Linked DNA regions of Homo sapiens: region 1 is linked to region 2. The links come from fine-mapping of genetic effects on gene expression. A gene starts in region 2. The other region holds a variant in brackets. All regions are shown on one strand. Distances are between the middles of the regions. Region 1 overlaps CAST (calpastatin). Region 2 holds the start of ERAP1 (endoplasmic reticulum aminopeptidase 1).

The links.
Region 1: its variant is fine-mapped to the expression of ERAP1 in lymphoblastoid cells (TwinsUK, PIP 0.95).

The regions. Positions count from the first base shown.
Region 1 is chr5:96,756,816-96,765,572 of GRCh38, forward strand. CAST (calpastatin) reads left to right here. Exons shown (of 32, transcript NM_001750.7): 23 at 629-679; 24 at 768-839; 25 at 5,459-5,557; 26 at 8,406-8,510. It also overlaps a transcript of ERAP1 not described here. Among named protein-coding and RNA genes, the nearest start is that of ERAP1, 47 kb to the right of the region's middle. The variant A/G (reference allele first, on the strand shown) is at 4,309.
Region 2 is chr5:96,803,220-96,811,976 of GRCh38, forward strand. ERAP1 (endoplasmic reticulum aminopeptidase 1) reads right to left here and starts at 4,726. Exons shown (of 19, transcript NM_001040458.3): 1 at 4,641-4,726; 2 at 184-724. The coding sequence starts at 707. LOC124901033 (a long non-coding RNA gene) reads left to right here and starts at 4,239. Exons shown (of 3, transcript XR_007058879.1): 1 at 4,239-5,358; 2 at 8,609-8,757. RefSeq lists a silencer at 4,147-4,606 and enhancers at 4,179-4,680, 4,681-5,180, 5,337-5,406.

The DNA.
Region 1 (8,757 bases), 46 kb before region 2:
CCCCGCATGCTTTCTTCATTTTGTCGTGTTACTCAAATGTGGCACTTGGAGTCATAAACAGCTTGACCTAATCTGAACCATAAGTTGCAGAGCGTTTCACTGACAGGTTAAACTCCCTGAGGGCAAGGCCTTTGTGCGATTTTCTGTTGTATTGCCAATGCTTACTTAGGTCAGGGCTTGGCATGTAGTCCTTGCATATGAGTTAGATGTGTGGCTTACAAGGTTAACCAGCATTTTCCAGACAACCTCTACAAAGCCCACCCCCATGTAGGTAAAGGGCTTATCCCACACTGTCCTGCAAACCCCAGTCACAGCACCACATACCACACTATGCTGACTTTCACGTTTTCCTGCTGTGATAGTCTCTAGGCTTCTGAGGTCACAAGCCATACCTCATCCAGTGTGCAGCCCCCGTGACTCAGGAATGCCTGGTGCTTGTGAGCTGTTTGTTGCCATGAACTAATTAGAGCATATTCTCTGGTGAGAGAATCCTTCGTGACATGATGGATCTAATTTAAAATGTACAACAGCAAGTATAACCTGTAGACCCTTTGTAATGTTTACAAGGTTTCATACTTTGGATAAAATGTAAAATGATTTCATGCCATGTGTTTTCCCCCCCGGATAGGATAAAGATGGAAAGCCACTCCTGCCAAAAGAGTCTAAGGAACAGCTTCCAGTAAGCAAACCAGTTTTCTCTGAGGATATCTTTTCCTTTTGGCCCTGATTGCAATGGTGTTTGTTGATACATTTCCTGGTTCTTGCAGCCCATGAGTGAAGACTTCCTTCTGGATGCTTTGTCTGAGGACTTCTCTGGTCCACAAAATGCTTCATCTCTTGTAAGTCCAAAACTCTTGGTTTTATTTCTTTAGTTTTTTTTTTTTTTTTCCTTTGAGATGGAGTCTTGCTCTGTCATCCAGGCGGGAGTACAGTGGTGCCATCTTCAGTCACCGCAACCTCCACCTTCCAGATTCAAGCGATTCTCCTGCCCCAGCCTCCTGAGTAGCTGGGACTACAGGGGTGCACCACCACACCCAGCTAATTTTTGTATTTTTAGTAGAGACGGGCTTTCACCATGCTGGCCAGGCTGGTGTCAGTCTCCTAACCTCATGATCCGCCCACCTCGGCCTCTGAAAGTGCTTGGATTACAGGCATGAGCCACCGCGCCTGGCCTATTTCTTTAGTTTTAGAGTGGCAGAAATAAATGGAAACTGGTGACTTAGAATCTGACTTGGGAACTCAGGAACAATCATAAAATTAATGGCCCTCAACCCACTGTAGCCATTAAAAATGTGTTGCACCATGAAATACTGTCCCAACATAGTGGATGCTTTTATTAGTGTAACTAATATCAAGTACCAGTACCCCTATGAAAAGAGAATTTAAATGTAAGCTTATCCAAAATTACTCCTCAGACAACTTTACCTATTGATATTTCTACAATTTATCATTTCCCAAATTGCCTCCTAAGGGAACTTAGCTCCATGTGGAATATAGAGTCCCTCAAAGGGAACTCTGTTACTCGAAAAGTTTGGACAATATTGGGTAATGTTAAGCAGGTTTCTCTACTGTAGGATTTTCATGGCTTTTTATATGCAAATATATAGTGAGTCTGTTAGAGTTCCCAAACTTAATAACTGCAGAACCTTTTCTTGTGGGGTCTGGTTTATCTGTTTACTGGGAACTCAGTTTTTAAACCACTGAATGTATTATTAGCAGTCAGTTGGAAAGGGATTAACAGTTTCTATGACAGTGGCATGGAAAATATATTTATATCAGTTGGAGAATAGACAGAATGACAACTAGAAGAAATAATGATTCTTTGGAATTGCCTGAAGTTGTTACTTTTGCTGAATGAAGCAATAAAGCCCCTCAAAGAAGAGCTTACTAACCAGAGCATGTTATTCTCTGTACCCCTGTAAAAGCACCGTGCTGCTCAGTCACCTCATCCCGTGACCTTCCTCTCATCGTCTTCCATACAGACCACATCACAGCAAAGCACTCCAGCCTTGATTTAGAAACCATAAGACATGGGGAAGAATACAATGTGAGGAGTACGCCAGGAATGTGGAGTCATAGCATTACACTGAGGCAGAACAGATGAACAAATAGTGGGGAACAAGATCTCAATTCCCTTCCTCCTCCTATCATTATTATTATTACAATTGTTAGGGTTGTTTTTTCTTTTAGAAATTCAAAGATTTGGAAAAAGTAACAATGGATTTATATGCCCCCTTCAAAGATATGTAGCAGTGAAATGGTGAGATGAAACAACCTTTAAAAAAAATCTTACTCTTAGAAAATTAGCAAAGGAAACATTAGTGCCAACAATATAGTTAATAAAGTAGAAATAACTAATCATCATGAGAACCAAATAATCAAAATAGTTATTTAGTGGAAAGTTTCAAGAAATTTGGGGGAGAAGTATCACATATGGCTCATAATTAGTGTTCATCTGTAAAAGAGTAGCTCCTGTACGTACCATGCTCTTTGATATAATAGAACAGAAATGCTATATAAAAAGAAACACTTAAAACTATTCCCCTAATAATACTGAGATCACATTGATAATAGACTATTTTAAAACATCAAAGATATTACAAGAAAAAGTCTTTGAGAAGCAGTCAAAGCAGTATTCCTGTGATACATTGTCATAAACACCTTTATCAATAGTAGAGAAAGAGAAAAAGAGAAACCTGATAAACTAAATGCTTATTGAATTTTAAACTGAAATTTCTAAAAGTTTTAATAAGGTAGCCACCAAAAACAAAGTAGCAATAAGCATACCAGGAAATGAAAATAGCGGCATGAAAGTTAACTGGCCAATAGTTGTTTCTTTTGAAATAACAAATACTTTATAAAATACTAGCAAATATAAAAGAGGAAAAAAAACCTTACAAAAAATACAATTAAATTTTAACAGAGTAATATAATAATATAGAGATCAACTAAATTATTGGTAGTTTAAAGCCAATAGTCAGTTGGCTTTTATGAATTTTTAACATTTTACAAAACTGATAAATAGAGAAAATAATCTTACTAATAAAATTTAACATAAATGTGAGAAAATACAATAATCAGTACAGAGCACAAATAAATTATTAGGAAACACTATGTACAACAATTTTCTAAGATTAAACAAAAATATTAAACTGCGTAATTCACAAAACCTAAAAAAAGACTGAAGAAAATATTGCAATGATTTTCAAACTGTCCTTCTACTGAAGGTTTAAAGATGACTCTAACTGTTGAACACTCAGTTCTTATGTGGCATAAATATGTCATGAAAAAGATGGGGTCACATAGTTGCTTCTATGAGTAATTATGGTGCTAATCTTAAAATCTGACAAATATAACGGTATCAGCTAAAGTTACTTAAATGTGTAGATGTAAAAATTACATACAGCATACATAGAATATAACAAACAGTTAAATTATTTGCCATTATAAGTATTGATTCAGTAGCAGGAAAACTGTCAATATATTGTAGTGGTATATCAAATAGAAACAAATAATCATGTCCATGTAAAAGATCTATTTAAAATTTTACATATACTCATATTATAAATAAAAACTTTTTAAAAAGTAGGCAATCCCCTAATCTGTTAAAGAGTCTTTAGTTTTCAGAATCAAATATTCAATATCATGCTGGAGGCATTTTCCTTAAAAGCAGAAACTATGAAAAGTTTATTGTCATTTCTGCTTATTATCACATGGAAGAATCATTAACAACACATGAAAAAAATGACAAACATTAAAAGGGAACATTTGAATATATTTGTGGATAGCACTACTTGTAGATAATACATTTGTAAGTAACATTATGCCATGTTTATTAGTAACAACAGATGAGAAAATGTAATTAATATGAGATCAGACTTAATGTAAACTATAAAAGGAGAAATGATCAGAAAAATAAGGACACAAAAAAATTGAAGGCCATACATTAAGTCAGTTTAACTAAATATCTTAAAAAGAATGATGACAATTCAAGTCATTTTATGTGTTAATTTTTTATTAAATAGCAATAAGATACTTTTATAACTCAATAAAATTATTCAATGATACATTCGGAAAATAAATGTATAAAATATGAAAAAGTACTAAAAAGCATTTTTCAGTACTTTTAGGTAAGATTAATCCAACTAAACACTAGCATATGTTATACAGTAATAATAAGTGGAAAATACAATAATGTTGAGAAAGCAAACTCAAAGCATAGATCAATGAAAAAATTGAGAAATGGACATAAATGATTTAGTATTTTTAAAGAGAGTGAAAAATCATTATTTTATGCTTTTGTGTAGC[A/G]TTAGATGAATTAAATAACATATGCACATATAGCTTTGCGATACAAATTTCCAGACCATAGGTTGTTTCATACTTAGTATTAAAAGGCTTAAATAATAAGTCAATAAGATAGTTTAAGAAGAGACAATACAAATGTTTCAATGTCATTCTTTTCATTTGACAACTTGTTATTCTTTTCATTTGTCATATAAGCAAAGATTTCTCATAACTAAAAATGAATTTAATTTAGTACATTTTGGATTACCTAAAATATTACATTCTAAAACGGCTTTACAGGGTATAAATGGACAATAAGTATCTTATAGTTATCTAAATTAGTTTAAATAATTTCCAATAATAACATGCTGAAATGAATTTCTGAATGTTGGTATCTTTTTAATGTGCTTTTCTCCATCTTTTGGTAAAATTTGCAATTCTCCTTTTTCAAAATAAGCTATCCATAGTTGGAGTCACCAAAGAGTTCTGGACTTTTTTCTGGTTTTTCATCAACAGTTATACCTAAGTTTTTTTGTCAAAAGGGAGTATTTGAAATGAAGCAAATATTCAATATTTTTAAACAGAAATTATTTCAGAAAGTTTCTAGAATATTTAACGTTGAAAAAAAACCCTGAAACCTGACACCGTATACCACAATATACAAGCAATAGTAGTATATCATTTTACACTGATTATCATAATAAAAGTCAAATTCTGGCAAGCAAGGCCATGGGAAAACAGGCATGCTTATTCATTGCTTTTCGCAGTATGAATTCCTAGCAACATTTGAGAGGGCAGTTTAGCAAAATATAGCCAGCACCATAACTCACTCACTAGAACTTATTCAGAGCAATTTTAAAAGAGCTGAAAACTTTGAATAACCTAAATGTACAACAGGAAATGTGTAAACAAACCGTGGAACTCTAAGTTATATTATTGCATAGTATTTAGAATAATCAATATGAGAAGGAAATAGAAATAGCAAATTGTATAAAATAATACAATAGAGAAGAAAGAATTTAAATTTCTTTTAAAATTATATGTTATTATGAGTCTATTTGGTCAAGAGAATAAACAGTCATTAAGCTATCTTTAAGAGTTATAGTTAAGTGATGGCATTGTGCTCATAATTTTATATACAACATGTTACTAATAAAATTTTTTTCAATAAAAGAAATTTGAAGATGCTAAACTTGCTGCTGCCATCTCTGAAGTGGTTTCCCAAACCCCAGCTTCAACGACCCAAGCTGGAGCCCCACCCCGTGATACCTCGGTAAGCAGCACATCTTATTTGGGAGATAAATGTTTTTGCGCAGCCACAACTAGAAAGAAAATAGGGCGCCTGTTTAAAGCAAATGAAAATAGGCAGAATTATTAGGAAGATCAGGCACCTTCTATTTCAGAAGAGCCGAGACTGATGATTTAGCGAGATGGCAGAGATTAACTTTGAAATGATTAAATGAAACTATATATGTGAAAACATTGTACACATAGTCAAGGACCTTAATATTATTGTTGCTTTATAAGAATTGAAAGTGCAATAAAGTGCATTGTGTCTATATTCAAATTACTAGATTTGAAAAGTTCTTTAGCTTTCCTGATAATTGATTTTCTCCTTTATATTTTTTCTTATACATTCTATAATTTACTACCCATTATTTAACCTCAAGTTTATTTTATGGAATCGTCATGTTTGAGCTTTTACAAACATTTTACAAACGTCATGGAATAGCATTGTTTTCTTCCCAATTCACACCAGTAAAAATTTGTCACTTTCATACTAGCAGTAGAAGAACCTCAGCATCAATATTGTTTTAATTATTTACATGCTGTGAGGCAAGGCTGTGGGACCAAAGCTTTTCCAGACTTCCTTGACTAATCACCTGTGCAATACCAAATTATACATTACCAAGGAGACCACAGCACATCAAATTATAAAGGGATTGCCCTAAACCAGATCCCCATCTCCTTTGGTTGAGAACAGTGCCTCATTTGCTAGATGGAGATGAAGTAACTTTAGCGAAGTCAGCTATGCTTCCATTCCGTTTGATGTAGCATCAAAGCATATTTAGTGCTGTAGTCTGAGATTCTGATGGATTTTCATCCTGTTGCGTCAGCTTCAGGATCATCTGAAAATATCCAGAGGCACAAATGACAAAGCCCAGACCTGGCCCCGGGCAGCTCTACCATTAGCAGCTATAATCCTGGATTATAATAAAGCACTTAAAACCAGTAAAATGCCCCGTGTGTGTGTATGTGCATGTGCATGTGCATGTGTGTATGTAAACACACCCACAATGAAGAAAGTCCCCATGCAACAGAAAGGAAGAATCATTAATAGCCTAGGCTGCCGTTTACACTTCAGTTCTTAATATTCAGGCCAGAGATTCTGCCCTGATGAAGGCTATCAGTAAACATTTGCAATCAAAAACTTTTTTGCCTTTAAGAAGTAGGTTTTACAATGACACTTCTCTGATCACATTTCCCATCAGAGAGGCTTGTTTTTAGTTAACATTTTATTTGAAGATGTCACTAAAACAAGGTATAAAGCTTTATTTAGATAAAAATATTAGGAAATCGAAGAGTCAAATAAACCATGATAATTCACGGGAGCTTTCTTTGCTGTGATTATTAGATTGTTACTAACAGTGTTACATACACTGAAAGCATTTGAAGACATGATTTCAAAGATCTGTGTAATAAAATCACTCCAACAGGAAAACTGCTTCAAAGAAAATAGAAGATCATGGATGTGACTAAGCATGACAGGGAAAAGCTTTATCAGTCCCAAGACCTGGGTTCTATTCACTTTTTAACAATTTGTTTTCAAGCAACTGACTTAGCTTCCCTGAGCTTTTTACCTCAAAAAAAAAAAGCCTGCTTAGTTCACTGAGAACCATTGTGGGCATCAAATAAAACTGGATAGTGTATGTGAAAACATTTTGAAAATCAACTGGAAAGTTCTATACAGTATTGGACAGAGTTCAGCATGGTGTCTTATACAATGTAGATATTAAACACATTTTAATTGAATTCATTTAGAGGTGGAATTTTGAATGCAATGTGTTGAAAAATATGGATTTTGCTATAATAATACTAATAATAATTTACCATTTGTTGGGTCCTAACATACAACTAGTATTGTTTTAAATGCCTTTTCAATCATTTACTTTTCTCAGCAACTTAGGAGTATAAGTACTACTATTATTCACATTTCACGGCCAAGGAAACTGAAGCTGAAAGGGGTTAAATAAGCTGCCTGAATCATACAGTAAATAAATGTTAGAGGAAATAAGCTATCTTAGTTACAGTGATATTGTTGTCCATAATTTTTTTCCTCTAGAATACCAGCTCCCATTTCTGCAATTTCACTTCCATGAGCTTCCTGAAGATGAAAAGAGAGGTTTCCCCACCAGTTCAGAAATTCTCTGAAGTCTTTCAGGGCACTCATCACCAGTGTGGCAGACAAGCCCCTTCCACTCTCCTGACCCCAGATTGTCTCTGGGGTTTTGTGCTTTAGGAAGTATTAGGATGGCAGTGCCGAGCTCCATGGCTTCCCACAAACTGCGGGTCACGCTGCACTTTCTGAAATGCACCCCTCAAGATCTTAGAGTTTTAGAGAGGACCCACAGAACCAAAGAAACACTTACCCTCTATAGTTGCAGAATCTTGCTTCCTAACCATCTGACAACATTAGTAGATGTTTGTTTTCATATCCAGTTTTCTAATGGTGTTTAATTTCTAAATGAAAGGCACACATGATTGGTTCATTTGCTTTTGGACCCTTTATGTGACCTCCAGGTCACCCACTGGATATGGCTCCTGAGGCTGCCACTAAGACCTCCTTAACCTGGTGGGATCTTCACCAAGAGATGGGCAGGGTTGGGTGGAAGGTGCTGGCCCTCCAACCCCAGTAGGGTGACAGATACTGCCGCTCTTCTCCTGATCTTCCATTCCTAGGCTTCTCTTCTCTGACCCTGTCTACTCCCCTGCCCCAGCCCCAGATGTCTTTTTCTTCCAAGGAAACAGGTTCCCTCCTGAAAAGATGGAGTTCCTGGGCTAATTTGCCTCTGATACAGTTTGGCTAATGAGTGACTAATTCAGCATTATTTACTTTTCAGCAGAGTGACAAAGACCTCGATGATGCCTTGGATAAACTCTCTGACAGTCTAGGACAAAGGCAGCCTGACCCAGATGAGAACAAACCAATGGAAGATAAAGTAAAGGTAAAAAAAAAAAAAAAAAAAAAAAAAATTCACTAATAGTGAAATTTTAATCCTTGGGTCTTGACTCTGTCATTGTCATAGGAATATTGATGTGAACTTAACCTATATTTTAAACATGAAATTATAATGAAATAGAAAAATCAATCTGTACTCCACTGGAGGGGAAGGTCACTGAATCTGTGACAGAGATACCAGCGGAGCCTCCCTGAGGGGATTCTGGGAGGTAGGTGTGGGGTATGCATGGCTT
Region 2 (8,757 bases):
ATTTTAAAATGAGATTTAAAAAGCAAGGGAAAAAGCCATTTTTAACACTATAAAGAAGATGCAAAAGCAAAACTGAAGAAAAAGTTCAACAGCAAAGGGAATTTTAAAAGACAATCAATCTGAAATAATGAATTTAGCGTGGGCAGCACTTGCAGTTTAAAAGAAAAAGAGAAAAAAAAATACCTCAGTTCCCCTTCCTTGGTTCTGTAGGTGCTTTTGTAAAATCCGTGGAAAGTCTCCGAAAGATTGCCAGCATAGTGAATGACAACTGTGTACGGGAGCCCGACAAGGAGGGGCTCGGGAGCCAGCAGTGCAATTTGCTCCTGACGGGGGTGTTCCAGGACCTGCAGGGGTTCTTCCGATAGCCTCTCTCCAGCTCCCTTCCTGAGGGTGGCCCTAGATATCTGCAGGTGGTGACTATGCAGGATGATGGTGCTGGTGGGCTGACTGGCTGTGATTTCTACTTTCGTGGTTCCCCAGAAGGTCAGCGTGGTAAGGTTTGCATGGATCAAGAGATCATAATGAACTGGGATGACGTACTCAGGAAGTCGTATTTTATTCCAAGGAAATGGTGTCCCATCACTACGTTTTGGAGATGCTTCAGTGCTCTGACACCATGAAGGAGTGGACACAGTTAAGAGAGCCAACAGTGAGGAAAGTAGAAATGACATGGTTGCAAGGGACCATTTGAGGGGCAGAAACACCATCTTCTTGCTCTACCTACCTAGCGGCACAAATGTACAAAAGCAAAAATATATGTCATTAAAATGTTATTGACACAGCATAATTTCAGAATGTATCCACCCAGCATTCACAGAAATAGGCATAAACTTCCAAAAGTACTAGGTCTTTTCCTGAAAGTAAAAGGACCTTCCCTATGTTATGGTTTCATATAAGAAAGATGTTTACAGTTAGCAACAATCATTAACACGTACTAGAAAGCATCATTTGATGTTCAAAGTTTAAATTAACTCTACCTGTCAGGGTTCTTGGTTGAAAGCAACCGAACAAGCTCTGGCTGATATAGGCAGAAAAGGAATCATTAGGGGATCCTGAGTGGCTCACTACACGGGTCACAGAGTTGCAGGACATTTGGGAAACCAGGCTCATGAAAGAAGCAAAACCAGAACCATATCAGAGGAACATCTGATCAAGCACCACTCCCCACTGACACTGGACCTTGGAGAAAGTCACCCTAGTACCCTGGAAATCAAATGCTGACACAGTGGCAGCCACCACTAGAACGAGGTCTCCACTTCCCCTGTAAGTATATGTAATGGTAACCTTTAATAACATCAGTGTCTTCCTCAAATTGTCATGCCAAAAGTTAATTACCTATTTATTTAGCCAGGAAGAGCTTAAAGAGCTTAATTTTCCCAGTAGTTTGTGGCAAACGTATCAATCACCTGGATTGATTTTAAAGACATAAAAGCAATGTGAATTTCAGGCCAGGCATGGTGGCTCACGCCTGTAATCCCAGCACTTTGGGAGGATGAGGTGGGCAGATCACAAGGTCAACAGATTGAGACCATCCTGGCCAACATGGCGAAATCCCGTCTCTACTAAAAATACAAAAATTAGCTGGGTGTGGTGGTGCGCACCTGTAGTCCTAATTACTTGGGAGGCTGAGGCAGGAGAATCGCTTGAACCTGGGAGGCAGAGTTGCAGTGAGCTGAGATTGCACCACTGCACTCCAGCCTGGCAACAGAGCAAGACTCTGTCTTTAAAAAAAAAAAAAAAAGGCAATGTGAATTTTAAGGAAGTTGGCAAACCATGCCCCAAGCATCAAACATAAGTTTTTATTTCTTTTATACAAACGCACCTTTCTAATGGGTGTTTGCCAAGAGGGGCCCATACCAGGTGAATGCAAGTGATTGGCCCAAACTCCTCGTGTTCCAGTTGGGAAAAGTAGCAAGCTTACAATGTGGATCCCTCAAAGTGTTCACAGTACATGGAATTCTCCCTCTCTGAGATGTCAAGTTTCCTAACTCTGGCTGCATATTAATGTAACCTGGGAAGCTTTTAAAATTTTCGATGCCTGGGTCCTTATTGACAACAATTAAACTGGAACCTATGGTGATAAGATCGGGGTATGGTTTTACGGATTGTTTAATTTCTGGTTTTTGGTTTTTTTTTTTAAAAAAAAAAAAAACTGTCCAGAGATTTTACTGAGAAGCCAAGGTTGAAAAGCTCATCCTTGCCAAATCCTGGCTTTCCCCCTTCAACTCTATGTGATAGGATACTAATTCAAGGCAATGGCTGAAGTGCCTTCCCTAACCCCTGACTTCCTTGCTCCCTTCCCAAATGCACAGCTCAAGGGAATTCCCTTCTCCTCACCTCTGGAGCAATCTGGAGGCTAAACAGAAAGGATACCTACACATTAGAGAGAGTCTTGGAAATCTCATAATCCCAGTTCAAAAGGCACCACCCAGGTGAGACAGGAAGTGTGAACAGGGAGAACATTTTTTTGCCCTTGAAGTTGGGGAACTAGAGAGTAAATGGAACTTGTGTTTTGCTTTCCATATGGAATTACTGGCAGCAACAGCTTAATGAGCATCGCCCCTGCCCCAAGACGGGATCCAGAGGACTCTGTGAAGGTGGCAGGTTCAAGCATGTAAGGACTCTGAAAGTCCCCGAGACCTCTCCAACAGCCCCAGAGAAGATCTAGAAATTCCAACTCGTTATGAGCTGACAGAAAGGCTGATGTGCTGCGGAAGGGGTTGGTACCGGGACCTTGGATCAGAGGCTTTGCAGGGTTGGGTCCATGAGGGGTCCAAAGAGAAACAGTTATGTCTCAACGAGGATGCAGTGCATGAGTGGGGCTTGGTAAAAACTCCATGTAGTGAATAAAGGGCTTCACTAATAAATTCTCTTATTAATCCCAAACTGTAGGCTACATCCAAGATTCTGTGATCATGTTCGTGTGTTTGGCTCTTCCCCTGAAAAATTAGCTCTTGTTTGGCTTTGCTTCCAATAGTAAGTGTTCCAGTTTGAAACATGGCATTTCATGGTTCTGGCTGGTCTCCTAGGGTCTGGTTTTACTAACAATTTTCTGAAAGGGAGGCAGTTAAAAAAAAAGAAAGCTCTCAAAAACAGTAGTCTACTCAATATAAGCAGCTCTTCCCAAGAGAAGTACAATTCTCTTTGAAGTTACACTCCACTAACACTTAAAGGAATAGAAGCCAAGGAGGAAAAAGAACTAATATTTACTAAGCTCCTCCAAAGTGCCAGGCACTTTACACATGCTCACTCTCTCTAATAGCCTATTATTCTCATTCAAGGTGGGGTAACTGAAGCAAAGAACCATTCATGTAACTTTGCTAAGTTCACACAACTTGTTGGAATGCAATCCACATCTGTGTGAGTATAAACTCCCTGCTTTTTCAGCTTCACCAAGATCCCTCTTTTTTTTTTTTTTTTTTTTTTTTGAGACGGAGTCTCGCTCTGTCTCCCAGGCTGGAGTGCAGTGGTGCGATCTTGGCTCACTGCAACCTCTGCCTCCCTTCCTTTTATTGGGGCACTATAGTATATGAAATAGATCATCAAGAAGTAATTGAGGTTCTTCCAGAATTTCCTGAACAATGAAATTAACAAGCACTGTTGGTAAATAATAAAAATGCTGGATTAATTTGAAAAAAAAAAAAGTACTAGAATGTTTCTATTCAGGCCGCACCTGAAAATGTGCTACTTATACTAATTAAAAATCCTCAGGCAAGAGACAACTGTGCCCAATTTTCAAGTTTTTTGTTTTGTTTTGTTTTGTTTTGTTGTTTTGTTAATTGTTGACCACGTCCTGAGTTCAGAGCGAATCCTCTGGGTGTTTAATAGGAAACAGATAATTTCTTTCTGAACCTAGCCTACACAAAGAAATCCAAAAGCGTGAGGAAGTGTGTGCTCTCCCCCTTCCCCTCATGGAATTAACTTTGTAGGACCACCTGGCCAGTGAGGCACCCAGATAGGAAACTTTTAATTTGCGTCAACAGAGGTGCTTTATCTGAATAAAACCCAGCCAGAGCCAGAGCGAAGGGGAGAGAGAGAATTGCTGACCAGAAGAACAGGAGAAGCAGGGAGGGAAGTGACCTTAAGAACACACACGGCCCGCGCATCCCACCCCACCAGAGTCTTTAACCCAAAGCCTCTGGGTTTCTCTAGCAGCTATGGGCAGGTGCCCTCCTCAGCCCGAGCCAGCTGCCCGCCCCACCCCGCCTTTTGGCCTCGCGCGGGCGTCGGTGGCCTGCAGGACTGGCAGGCATCCAGGCGCCAGGCGGAGCGCTGAGGGAGGCTCCCGCCGGCCGAACAGCGGGGAGACCCGTGAAGCAGGCGCACCGGCCACGCGCCCGGAGGGACAGGGACAGGGACCGGCAGGGGTGGGCCCGCCGCCAACCCGCCGGGCACCCCGCGGACTCGGGCCTAGCCAGCGACTCCCCCCGCCCTTCCCGCGCCCTGTCTCGCGCCCCGTCGCCTTCCTCCCGCGCCCCGTCGCCTTCCTCCCGCGCCCCGTCTCCCTCCTCCCGTGCCCCGTCTCCCTCCTCCCGTGCCCCAGGCCCTCAGCCCCCCACTTGACGGGCGCAGGGAAGGGGCGGGTGCCGCGCTCTCCTCCCGGCCCGCAGTCCCCTACCCGCGGCTCGAGCGCGCTGTACCTGGGGTTCTGGGGCCGCCCTCACCCTTGCGCCGCCGCCACCACCACTGCCGCCGGCCTAGCTCCCCCAGGACCGAAAGTGAAAGTGGAGCCCGGGGAGCGGCAGGCTGGCGCTGAGCGGCGCTTCGGCCCGAGCCCTAGCGGCAGGCGGGGAAGCCCCTGGCTAAGGCGGGAGCTGGGGAAAGGGTAAACGGGAGTGGGGCCGAGCGAGGGAAGCCGCAACTCCCAGGAAGGGAATTGGTAAATGAGCGCTGCACGCCGGGGAAGCTGCGAGGTTGCGATGCGGGGGATCAGGCGTAGGAAGTGCACGCCTTTCTGAACGCGGATCCGTGTGTGTGTGTGTGTGTGTGTGTGTGTGTGTGTGTGTGTGTGTGTGTGTGTGTGTGTGTGTGTGTGTGTGTGTTGAGATGCTTTTTGTTTTTGTCTTTTTTTTTTTTTCACTGTTTAGCGTTGCGAGGGTTAGGGGCATGCAGGAAAGGGCCGGTGCTCAAGTTGGGGACCGAAGCCAGGCAGGCGCTGACAAGTCCACCAAGCCTAGACGCGTTCGACGCCCATTGGACTCGCTGGGTGTCCGTCATCTCGCCACTGCCAGTGGGCTGAGAGCTCTTGGCCCGCCTCGGAAAGAAACATGAACCCAGTACTCTGTCGTGGCAAAGTGCCGCACCTTCTGGGGCTTCGGTAGAGAATGACTACAGTGGGAGATGCTGTAGAGGAGGAAGGTGGGTTAGAGGTGGCCCCCAGGACTTTCCTGCACTACCAAGGGCCACTGTACCCCAAGGATTAGCTGCTTCCCGCATCAACACGTTCCCTCTGATTTTTCAAAGTAAATGACCATTTCTTCACTCCCCTTAGAACAATTAAAGCTGAATAAAATGGCCAAAAAGACCATCTTTAAACAGTTGAGGCTAAATGAGGTAACAAGTCAAGAAAACACAAACATTAAAACACCAAATGCTACAAGTTTATTACCGAAAATGGGTCCCGATCCAGACCCCAAGAGAGGGTTCTTGGATTTTGCGCAAGAAAGAATTTGAGGGGAGTCCATGGAGTAAAGTGAAAGCAAGTAATTAAGAAACTAAAGGAATAAAAGAATGGCTACTCATAGGCAGAGCACCCCCAAGGGCTGTTGGTTGTCCATTTTTAGGGTTATTTCTTGATTATATGCTAAGCGGGGGAAATTATTCATGCCTCCCCTTTTTAGACCATATAGGGTAGCTTCCCGACGTTGCAGTGGCATTTGTAAACTGTCATGGAGCTGGTGAGACCGTAGCAGTGACGACCAGAGGACACTCTCATTGCCATCCTGGTTTTGGTGGGTTTTGGCCAGCTTCCTTACTGCAACCTGTTTTATCAGCAAGGTCTTTATGACCTGTGTCTTGTGCCTACCTTCTATCTCATTCTGTGACTTAGAATGTCTAACCTCCTGGGAGTGTAGCCCAGTAGGTCTCAGCCTTATTTTACCCAGCTCCTATTCAAGATGGAGTTGCTCTGGTTCAAACGTCTCTGATAATTTGGTGAGTGGACCATGGTCCTAGTGGGAACAGGACCCTTTTCATGCGGTTCTCAGACTTTCTTCTCCCACTTCTTTATTGGCCTTCTTCCCTTTGAGAACTGGGGATTCCAAGTCACTGCAACAGTATTTCTCTTTTTTTTTCAATATTATGTTTCCTTTTTAAAAATATAATGTTTCATACTGCCTATTATCTCTAGTCAAGGACATTTTATAATATAAAGATTAACACCCTGTTCCAAGACTCAACTACGGTGGGATCCAGGGAAGTTTTTTTCACTAAAATTCAACAAGAAATGAGGACTTTGAGATCTGGTAATTTCTGCATGTTCAGAATTTGACAGGAGGTATCAATGGATAGCGTGTAGCCTCCAAGACCTCCAGACATCTCGGAGTGCTCCCAGTTTACTCAAGATGAGACCTCTTTGTCCAGTAAATGTATGCATTTCTTTGCTTTTATATTTATATTTTTGAATATGATGGTTTTCCTTTGGCTTCTAGTAAAGTTTTTTTGTTTTTGTTTTTGTTTTTTGTTTATGTGTCTTTTTAAATACATATTGAAAGTCCAGCTGGCAGAACTGAATGCACCCAACAGGCTGGAGGTTAATACAGAAGACAGCTGAGGAGACAAACAGGGCAATGCCCTGAATGGATGTGGGCAGAAAGGAGCTGAAGTGTAGGCGAGGAGAGAGCTGACACCACCACCCGCTCCACGCCGTTTCCCCAAAAGCTCACCCTGACTCAGACTTTAGCCTGTCGCCCTGGCCGTGATTTCGTCTTTAGAGTTGAAGTGCACTACAAAGAGCGATAAGTCAGAGGATTTGGCAGCATTCACTTCTAGTTTCAAAGCCCTAGCAGGGATGTAGAGGACACAGACCTTGGAGTAAGGACTTTAAGGAGTCCTAGTTCTAGAGCCTGTGAGATCAAAACAGCACATTACCGAGCTTAGAAATGGTTAGAAGGAAGGGAACAGAGAGAAAGGGTACCTAGGTTTATTGATTCCCTACCAACTGTTAGATACTGTTAAATGCTAGCTATGTGTGCATGTGTGTGTTTATAATTTGATCTCTTCAGCAACCCTGTAATGTAGATATTATGCTTTATAGATGAGAAAAATGAGACAGGTCGGCAACTTGCTCAGAGTCAAAGAGAAAACACACACTAATTCTACTCACATTGCATTGGCCAGAACAAGGAGGGGTTGGTAAACACTAATATTGTATACCATATAGTGTAGGAGGGCTGGTTGGCCGGTTGAGCCCATCCATTGCAGAGGCTTCTCAGTGTCCTTAGTCCCAGAGGTGAGCCAGAGGAATGAGGAGAATTTCAGGCCTAGGCCAATGAAATACATACCACTTTGAGCTATTACTGATCTACTTAAAAAATATTGAATTCTAGATATTGTCAAGTGATGTTCAATTTTGCTGTAATTGATTGATTCAGTTCTGCTTTCATTAGCTTTTAGTCAATTAATGTCAGCGTTTGGCTCATTTCTTCTGTTTTGCTGCCAAAGCTGCTCCTATTTTAATCATATTACCACTCTCCTTTTTGATGTAAAATCTCATCCAGAATCATGGTGTAGAAAACAGACAAAAGCAGGCCTGCTCTTATTAAACAGGGCAGCTCCACCCAGTCAGCCTTGCCCACTGCTATCCGGCCCTTCCACACACATTGTGGTCCTTGAGACTCTTCCATAGGCTCCCAGGGCCTTAGAACTTAATTTTTTTAAATGCCAATTTAAAAAAAAATAATAATGCCCCTCATTCTTGATATTCTTGATAAAGAGGATGACTTTTTTCCCCCTCTGTGCCAAGTTGCAGAGCAGGCTTGCTTAACAAAAGCAATACCATCTTATTAATAATCAGAAACAGGGAAGACGGTACAGATGCCATGTTAAAGACTGTTCCAAAACAGGCCACTGAGCTCATATCAAATAATAAAGTCCTCTGAAATGTGGCAGCTTGAAAGCATTTACATATAGTCTATCTCATGGGATCCTCACATTGTACTTATGCAGGTGGCTAGTAGCTCCATTTTTCTAGAATGAGGAAACAGGATTAGAGATGTGAAGTGACCTACCAGGGGCCACCACATGGAAAAAGCCTGCTTTAAAGTGAAGCCAGTTCAAAGGACAGCAGGGCTGACAGAGACAGAGAATACCTCCACTAAAGCCCTCAGCTCCAGCTGTCCTGAGCAAATCCTGTCCTTAGACCTTCCATTCAAGAGGACCAATGCTTTCCTTTTTGATTTAGCCAGTTGGAGTCAGTCTTCAGAGAGAGTCCTGTATTACCATACAACAGAGCACTATGGGAGCGAGCAATGTATGCCAGATTCTGTAGGAACAACTCAAGCAAGTTGAGTGACCACAGCTGCCCTTGAACTTCTAGAATTGTGGATCCTGAAGAACATTCTAGGTGCCACGAGGACTGATCACATGTTTCCCATTTTCCCTCCCTCAGGCATTTATTTCACAAGATACTGCTGTCTAAGGTAACCTGAGCATGTTTCCAGTTCTTGCAGCCTTACAGAACCCAGGGAATCCACCTGTCTCCAACCTTCCTCAGTAGGTGACAGGCCCATCTAACTGCTCTCTAGCCAGTCTTCTGTA